Regions from separate parts of the Homo sapiens genome. Here region 2 is linked to region 1. The links come from fine-mapping of genetic effects on gene expression. Tissue or cell type: macrophages after interferon gamma. Region 1 holds a variant in brackets; the other region holds the start of a gene. All regions are shown on one strand. Distances are from middle to middle.

Evidence for each region. PIP is the estimated chance that this variant, and not a neighbour inherited with it, causes the effect.
Region 2: it holds the start of MRPL13, and the variant in region 1 is the best candidate, but not a certain one, in a credible set for the expression of MRPL13 in macrophages after interferon gamma (Alasoo 2018, PIP 0.62).

What each region holds. Positions count from the first base shown.
Region 1 is chr8:120,920,861-120,925,261 of GRCh38, reverse strand. No RefSeq gene overlaps it. Among named protein-coding and RNA genes, the nearest start is that of SNTB1, 110 kb to the right of the region's middle. The variant A/G (reference allele first, on the strand shown) is at 2,026.
Region 2 is chr8:120,442,725-120,447,125 of GRCh38, reverse strand. MRPL13 (mitochondrial ribosomal protein L13) reads left to right here and starts at 1,976. Exons shown (of 7, transcript NM_014078.6): 1 at 1,976-2,058; 2 at 3,818-3,941. The coding sequence starts at 2,032. MTBP (MDM2 binding protein) reads right to left here and starts at 1,707. Exons shown (of 22, transcript NM_022045.5): 1 at 1,538-1,707; 2 at 613-693. The coding sequence starts at 1,655. RefSeq lists an enhancer at 2,069-2,248.

The DNA.
Region 1 (4,401 bases):
ATTTTTGCCACTACTTTCAATGGCAAAAACTGCAATTACTTTGGCACCAGCCTAATAGTACCTGACACATAGAAGGAGCTCAACAAGAATATATTGAATAAATGAACAAATGAATGAGTTCCTTCTGACTTCAAAGCCCAGGGTTATTCCACTTCATCTTGCTTGTAGCTGGAAAAACAAAACTCAAACAGTGGTTGCCCTTAGATTTCGAGATGTCTTCTATGCAGTGTATTGATATTAGGATAGTATTTCTTCCGTTACAAACAAAATAGTTCCCCGCCACGTAAGTTTGCATTGAAAAACTACCCAGTGACATCAAATTCAAAATGTATACCACAATTTTTGTTAGCAAACAAATCTAGTTCCCTTAATGATGATTGACCACTTAACTTCTACCCCTACAGTTAATGTGGGAGCAAATTGGAAAACAAAGTTGAGCAGAAACAATTACATTATAATGGAAATTCTGAGGAATATCTCATACTGTTTTAGGTTTGCTTTGGCTGTGTTTGCAGCCAAAATTCAGTCACAGTCAATCAACCGATTGTTTCCTCTGCATTACACCAAAGGAGTGGTTGTTCTAATTTTTTTTTCTTTGTCACTGAATTGATGAATTGCTTTGGCATCAGGTAGGTCAGGTAGTCAGCTTTTATCTTGGGAAATAATCATCTTCTGCTGGGAGAGCTATTCGGCTGTGTGGTAGTGCTTTATCATAGGCAGCACATAAGTGGTGCTGTTTGCAATTTGATAAACGTGCACAAGGCTCAGAGGTCCCCAAACACAAGTCTCATATGTAAACACAATCAAATCATGCTGTTAACTAGGGAACTGAATTGTCATTGCTCATCGTTCTCTGTCTTTTCCACTCCTCTGTAAAAAAAATCCTCATACCTCATTCTGTACAAGCAAATTGAGAGGCGTTTCTCAGTTCTGGGTAGCATTAAGATGAGCATCAAATATTTTCTATCTGCTTTAAACTGAATTTTTGATGGGGAAATACCATATTAAAACAATTTTATAAGAAACTGGAACATGGCGAGTGTGGTGGCTCACGCCTGTAATCCCAGCACTATGGGAAGCTGAGGTGGACGGGTCACATGAGGTCTGGAGTTCGAGACCAGCCTGGCCAACATACCAAAACCTGGTCTCTACTAAAATTACAAAAATTAGCTGGGTGTGGTGGCATGTACATGTAATCCCAGTTACTCAGAAGGCTGAGGCAGGAGAATTACTTGAATCTGGGAGGTGGAAGTTGTAGTGAGCTTAATCATGCACTGCACTCCAGCCTGGGCAACAGAGTTGAGACTGACTCCATCTCAAAAAAAAAAAAAAGAAACTGGAGCACTTTCAAAGGCTTTAAGGACATATCAAAATACTGGGGACTATCTAAGAAATGCAGAAGGATAGCTAGTTTTTTAAAACTTTTCTTTCCCAAAGCCTTTGGAATCATAACACTTCAGGTTAGGAGAAACCAGAAATGTTGCATGTATGTGCAACACACACACACACACACACACACCCCTACCTGTCTCTCTTTAGACACTAAGGACAAAAGTTAATTGTTTTAATTATTGCCAACATTTCTGCAGTGGATATTAACTGCATTTTAAAAATTATGAAATTGAAGCAGAAAAATTAAGCAACTTGCCATAGGTCCCATATTTAGTAAGTGGAAGAATTAAAATTGGAACCCAGTTTTATCTCTATGTCTTAACTACTACATGCACCACCACACTTCTATAATATTCCTGCCAATGTATGCTTGAATTCCTTTTTTGAACCAGTCCATGAACTCAGTTTATCCCATCCTCAGACATCTCTATTTGAATTGCCTACTCTATGCAGTGAATTAAAAGTTGTCTTTCTGTAACTCCCGCCTAGTGATCCTAGGTCTGGCTTGAGGCCTTTCTGAGTAAGTGCAATCCCTCTTCCAAGTGACAAGCTTTTGAATATTAAAAGCTGGTAATCATGTCACCTTGAGCTTTCTTTCTGGAGCCTGGGTAAATATTCCCAGGTCCTTCAGCC[A/G]TCTTTTCTATAACACGGTTTTGTTTTCTTGGTTACTTTCTATCGTATATGTCTTCCTCTTAAAATATGGCTCAGTATTACTCATAAGATTTCAGCTTTCGTCTGGCCTCCCTAAGATGACCAGAAATCTTACCACCCTCAATCTATTAATGCATTGACTGAATTAAAATTTCTCTCCTCCCCAGCAATCCTGTTTTTAAATCTATACTTCATGGGAATGCAGCCTTGCCTCAGAGTCCCCCAGACCCCACACACAATGTCAAATCTGTAACAGTCCTCTTCTAAAAATGCAAAGCAAATCCTACATGAAATTAACCAGAGCACCCAATGGGACTCTATTTTATGAAACTTAATCCACTTTAGTGTCCTGCTTCTCTCCCTAAAGCCTCATGGTCCAAGCATCCTCTATCTTTAAAAAGTCTATAAATCCTTAAATGTCTGCCACAAACCCAGTTACTCTCCCAGGAAAGTACATGCATATCTCATTTTATTGTGATTCACTTGATCGTGTACTGCATTTTTTTTTTTTTTTTTTTTTTACAAACGGGAGATTTGTGGCAGCTCTGCTTCAAGCAAGTCTATCAGCACCATTTCTCCAACAGCATGTGGTCACTTCATGTTTCTGTGTCACATTTGGGTAATTCTTGCAATATTTCAGATGTTTTCATTATTATTATATCTGTTATGGTGACCTGTGATCAGTGATCTTTGATGTTACTATTATAACTGTTTGGGGGTACCATGAACCACTCCCATATAAAACTGTGAACTTAATTGATAAACGTTATGTATATTGTGACTGCTCCACTGACTGACCGTTCTCCCATCTCTCCCTGTCTCCTTGGGCTTCTTTATTGCCTGAGATACAACGATATTAAAATTAAGCCAATTAATAACCCTACAATGGCTTCTAAGTGTCCAAGTGAAGGGAATAGTTGTACATCTCCCACTTTAAATCAAAAGCTACAAATGATTTTTAGTGAGGAAGTTATGCCAAAAACAGATAGGCCAAAACTCATTCTCTTGCACCAGTCAGTTAGCAACACTGCTAATGCAAAGAAAATTAACATTGTTAATGCAAAGGAAATTAAAAATGTTATTCCATTGAACACATTAATGATAAGAAAGTGATATGAATAATGATAAGAAACAGCATATGCAGAAAGCTTTGGAGATCTGGATAGATCAAACTAGACACAACATTCCCTTAAGCCAAAGCTTAAGCCAGACAAAGGCCCTAATCTTCAATTCTGTGAAGGCTGAAAGAGGTGAAGAAGCTGCAGAAGAAAATTTGGAAGCTACCAGAGGTTGATTCATGAGGTTTAAGGAAAGAAACTTTCTCTATAACATAAAAGTACAAGGTGAAGCAGCAAAAGCTGATGCAGAAGACTCAGCAAGTTATACAGAAGGTCTAGTTAAGATCATTGATAAAGGTGACTACTCTAAACAAATTTTCAGTGTAGACAAAACAGTCTTAATTTGGAAGAAGATGCCATCAAGGACTATCATAGCTAGAGAGAAGTCAGTGCCTGGCTTTGAAGCTTCAAAGCACAGGCTGACTCTCTGGTTAGGAGCTAAGGCAACTGGTGATTTTAAACTGAAGTGTTCATTTACCATTCTGAAAATCCTAAGGGCCTTAAGAAATCTGCTCTGCCTGTGCTCAATGAGATTTTATTGTTTTAAATTTTATTTAAACACAATGGATGACCTCACATCTATTTACAGCATGATTTACTGAATATTTTAAGTCCACTGTCAAGACTTACTTCTTGGAAAAAAGATTCTTTTAAAAATATGGCTGCTCATTGACAATGCACCTGGTCAACCAACAGCTCTGATAGAGATGTATAAGTGGATAAATGTTGTTATCATGCCTGCTAACACAACGTCCATTCTGCGGCCTATGAATCAAGGGGTTAATTTCAACTTTCAAGTTTTATTATTTAAGAAATACATTTTGTAAGGCAATAGCTGCCATAAATAGTAATTTCTCTGATGGGTCTGGGATAAGTAAATTGAAAAACTTTTGGAAAGGATTCACCATTTTAGATGCCATTAAGAACATTGGTGATTCATGGAAGGAGGTCAAAATATCAACATAAACCAGAGTTTTAAGAAAGTTGATTCCAATCCTCATGGATGACTTTGAAGAGCTTGAGACTTAATTGAAGGGAATAACTGCAGATGGGATGGAAGTAACAAGAGAACTAGAAGTGAAGCCTGAAGGTGTGACCAAATTGCTACAGTCTCATGAGAAAGCTTGAATGGATGAGAAGTTACTTTTTATGGATGAGCAAAGAAAGTTGGTTTCTTGGGATGCAATCTACTCCTGGTAAAGATGATACAAACGCTGCTGAAATGACAAGACAAGATTTA
Region 2 (4,401 bases), 480 kb after region 1:
ATTCTCCAGTAAAGGACAAGAAGCAGGAATAAAAGAAAAGATAACTATCAAAGTCAGTAAATGCATTTGTATAATGCCAGTAGAAGCTAAAGGAGGAAAGATTTTTACAAAGTACGGTTGGTCAAAAAAGCGAAATACTTCAAAAAGTCAAAGCAGATAAGAACTGAGAAAAGCTCATCGTGTTTAGTAATTATTAAGTACTTTTAAGAGAATCAGAACAGAAATAGGTAATTAAGAACAGAAATAAATAAATAAATAAATGGTAAGGAAATCCGTGTGGGAGCTTTACATATTTTTACTCATGATAAAATCATCCTCATAAAGCCACACTCCCCTTAGTTATACAGAACTAAGATAGGCAAGAAAATTTCATAAAAGGAGCAAAATTCAAGCTGAGAACCTAGAATAATTTTCATAACTTTACTATATTCAAGCATCTAGAAGAAAGGGGTAATTTATTTTTCAGTTTTGTACTCCCTTAGTTATCTCTGTAACTCAGTGCCTTGTACACAGTCAAGAAGTATTTCCTTGTACTCCTTAGGGTCCAAATTAATTAAGTTAATTTCCAGTACAAATGCTGTGCCAGAGAAAAGAGGAGTTTATTATACTTACCAGGGAAAGTACTATCTTCTGGATTAATTGAAGCACTAATGCTTCTTTTCAAGAGGTGATAAACATTTGCTGCTGTGAAGTCTGAAAAAGAAAAGATAGACTAACTCAAAGGGCTCTAGATTTACATAATCTAACTTAGTCCAATTTCACCATCAGAGACTCTCAAGACCAGTAGGTTGTACATAAAAGTACTAAACGCTGCTCAAGATCTGTTCAAGTTTTGATACAGAAAATCTAAAGCAATCAGAGAAAATAGAAAAGGCTCCCGATCTGTACATGCCAGTCAGTTAGCACGAATGCAAAATTCCCCTCAAAAGAATAATTTTAAAGAGAAGGGAAATTCTGTGACAATACCTTATACACAACCACATACATTTACTCCTCAAAATGCCTGTTTGATCGAAACAAATGAACACATAAAATGCAATATTGAATCTAGACGGGTGCACCAAAAAGCAGTGCAATCGCAAACAATTAAAATCATTTAAAATTCATCATTTGTTTTTAAAACTTAGGTTATATGTGGGATGTCTCCTCCCATTAGATGTAAATTGTAGGACAGCAAGATCTTTGTCCATCTTGCTCCTTTCCGTATTATTTGCATGTGAAACACAGGAGCAGAAATAATAAATGCATATATTTCCAAAAAGCAGGAAATTCCATTACTAAGGCATAGAAAATTTATTAAGTTAAACATTTACTATGCCAAGAACTTCTAAGGGCTGGAATCTTGCATCCACAAATTTGTCCCTGTTTTTCCATGAAGATGCTATTTTTGCAGCCCTCATTAACTCTATCCCAGATAGAGTCCCAGCTTCGTGGGACAACTACATATTGATCCCTCTTCAGCAGAACTTGATCACAAAACTCAAACTTCTTCCCCTCTCCACAAGCCGTTCCCGCTCTTTCTCATCCCAGCGCTTACCCGGCTGATTCTCAGTACCCTCACCCGACGACACCTCTGGCCCATGTTCTGCCTCCCTACTGGCCGCCGACGGGAATTTTCCTTCCCCCCAGATCACCAGCAGCAGGTACCGATCCATCTCCTCAGAGATCACCCCCCAACTTTAGGTCTCGGCTTCCACATCCAAACAGACGCGCGCTATGACGCATTTCCGGTTCCCTTCGTTTAGGTCGGCTGGAAATTATGTCCTCCGTCGGTTTTCCGCAGTTTTTCCACCAAGCGAGATATTTTTGGGAGTTATTCCCTAAATAACTGCATTATATGCTCCTTTCATGACGAAATTGCTGCCGTGGAGAAGACTGGAGGAAACTCGAGGAAGAGGGAGAAGCCGACAAGTGCTCGACGGGCTAGGAACTGTCCTGCTTGGGTGTTAGCGTTTCCCGCCGGGCCAGTAAGGCTGAGTGACCCGGCGTGGCTACTAGGAGAAGGACGTACGGTCCTGCTAGTAGAGGAATATGTCGAGTTTCTCTAGGGCGCCCCAGGTGAGCTCGGACTCTTATGGCTTGATGGGGTTCATTATACTGGCAGAAGGAGAGCGTTGGTTCCGGCAGATTAAGTAGTGAAGCTGGGGCGGCAGGGAAGCCGAGACCCTCGGCCAAGAGGTGACTTGGGAAAGCACAAGAGGGTCGTCAGTCTGGCAAGCACTTAATGTCGTTCGTCTGTTACTCGTCCCCTCTTCTTTTCAATCTGCCCTTTTCATGTCTTTCTTGGGGGGGCGGGGGGAAGAGGATTAGAGCAGATCGGAGAGGTAATAAGGTGGATCACATAGGGCATTGTAGGCCCTTGCAATAATTTGTTTTTTGACTGAGTAAAATGGGGACCTTTTGGAGGGTTTTGATCCACGGAGTAACAGGATCTGACCTGGTGTCAAAAGGAGCACTCTGGCTGCTGGGTCGAGAATAGACTGTTCAGAAATAGGGGTTAGTAGAGGACAGAAGCAAAGAATATGTTTGGAGGGTGTTACAGTAATCCAGGCGAGACGTGATGGTGCAGAGGCCACGCTAGAAATACTATGGAGTGTGTTGAAAGTGGTCAGGTTTTGTTTGAAGGTGGAGCCAGTAGGACTTCCTGAATATTGAGTATAGGCCAACAGCAAAAGAAGAAACAAGGATTACCCCAAGGTTTTTTGGTTTGTCCAACTGGAGGGTGTGTCATCAACTGAGATAGGGAAGGCTGAGATTGAACCAGGTTTCAGGTGGAAGAATAGGAGTTAGTTTGGGTTATATCGGTCTAAGATGACTCTCAACTCAGTGCCGCTCCAAGTATGGTTCCTTCCTTGGGCTGTTTGTTGCCTGTCTGTGATGAGATAAATACAGGAAGTAAAATAAAAATTTTAAAACCTTTTTCAGCAATCTGACATCGCCCAGCATTTGTATTTTTTTCATTAAAAATTTTTTTTTTCTAAGTATCAAACTATTAGTCTACAATGGATGGGGACAAAAACTGGCCTTTTTCTTATATGTAGACTAGTTTGAGGTTGTGATAAGTAAATTTAAAATAAGACCAGCTAGCCTCGTTCTATTTTTCCAGCATTGTTTAGCCTCTTGTGTATATGCATAGAGAAAGCATCTGGTGGAGATCTTTCTGGCCTAGAATTTTCTAAGAATTTGAATACATTGATGACGACTGTAAAAACAATGCTCTATTCCTGAGGCAACCTAAAGATACCTATTTCAGGCAACTTTTTAAAGTTGAAATTTATTCCACATCACCCATCTGTACTTTCCCAACTACATTGTTCTATTTAACTCTCCCCAGGAATTGAACTCCTGAATCGTCTTCAGTTTCCAGTTGGCCACTCAGCTTTCAATATAATGTACCTAATAATCTCTAAATGTTTTTGAAGACCTTCATAAACAGCTTCTACTTTCTTACAAGCTTCTCATTGCCCCTCCAGATTCTATTATGTGTTATACAAAAAAAAAAAAAAAAGTCATACCGTAAAGGGAAATATATCTTTGGGATATTTATAACAAAACGTAAGTCATATTGCTAACAGGAAACCAGGAAGGAATAATTACTGTGTTTGTCTTTGCAGAATGATTAGAAAAAACAACCCTTTTCCAGAAATAGAAATGAAAACAAAAATTCTTTAGCAATAGAGTTATTTTTCAAAGAAATTGTTGACATTAATTGTAGAAACGTGATGATATATGATAATAAATTTAATTACTGTATTTCCATTTTAATGATAATTATCTTTATTTTTTCCTCTTCTTTTTTTTTTTTTTCCCCCCCAAGCAATGGGCCACTTTTGCTAGAATATGGTATCTCTTAGATGGGAAAATGCAGCCACCTGGCAAACTTGCTGCTATGGCATCTATAAGACTTCAGGGATTACATAAACCTGTGTACCATGCACTGAGTAAGTATTATTTTAGACCTGTCATTAACCACTGTAGTTTTCATGCCAGAATAGAATCTTGATGAAGTTTAACAGGGCTGAGTTTAAGGGCCCTTTTTATTTTTCCTGAGGATCCTGTATTCCATTCTTGCTGAAACCATACTAGCGCCCAAAACTGAATTTGGCTTATTCACTGGAAAACCGTATGGATCAGTTTACCCGGAACAAGCCTATTTTATGCCACTGCCCAGCGAAATTATTAGTAGCCCTTCTTTTCACACTCAGAAATAACCTGATTTGCCCCATGACTTAAACTTTCACTTTTATATATGTCTTTTCACGTGATGACATCCATATAAAGAGTTTTTAAGGGAAATAATTTTGCCCTCTCTTCTAAAAAATCTTTTCCCCTAGAAAAATATATGGTGCTAGCTAGGTATGGGAAGCTTATTTTCACTAATAAGACTAATAGACTTGCTTT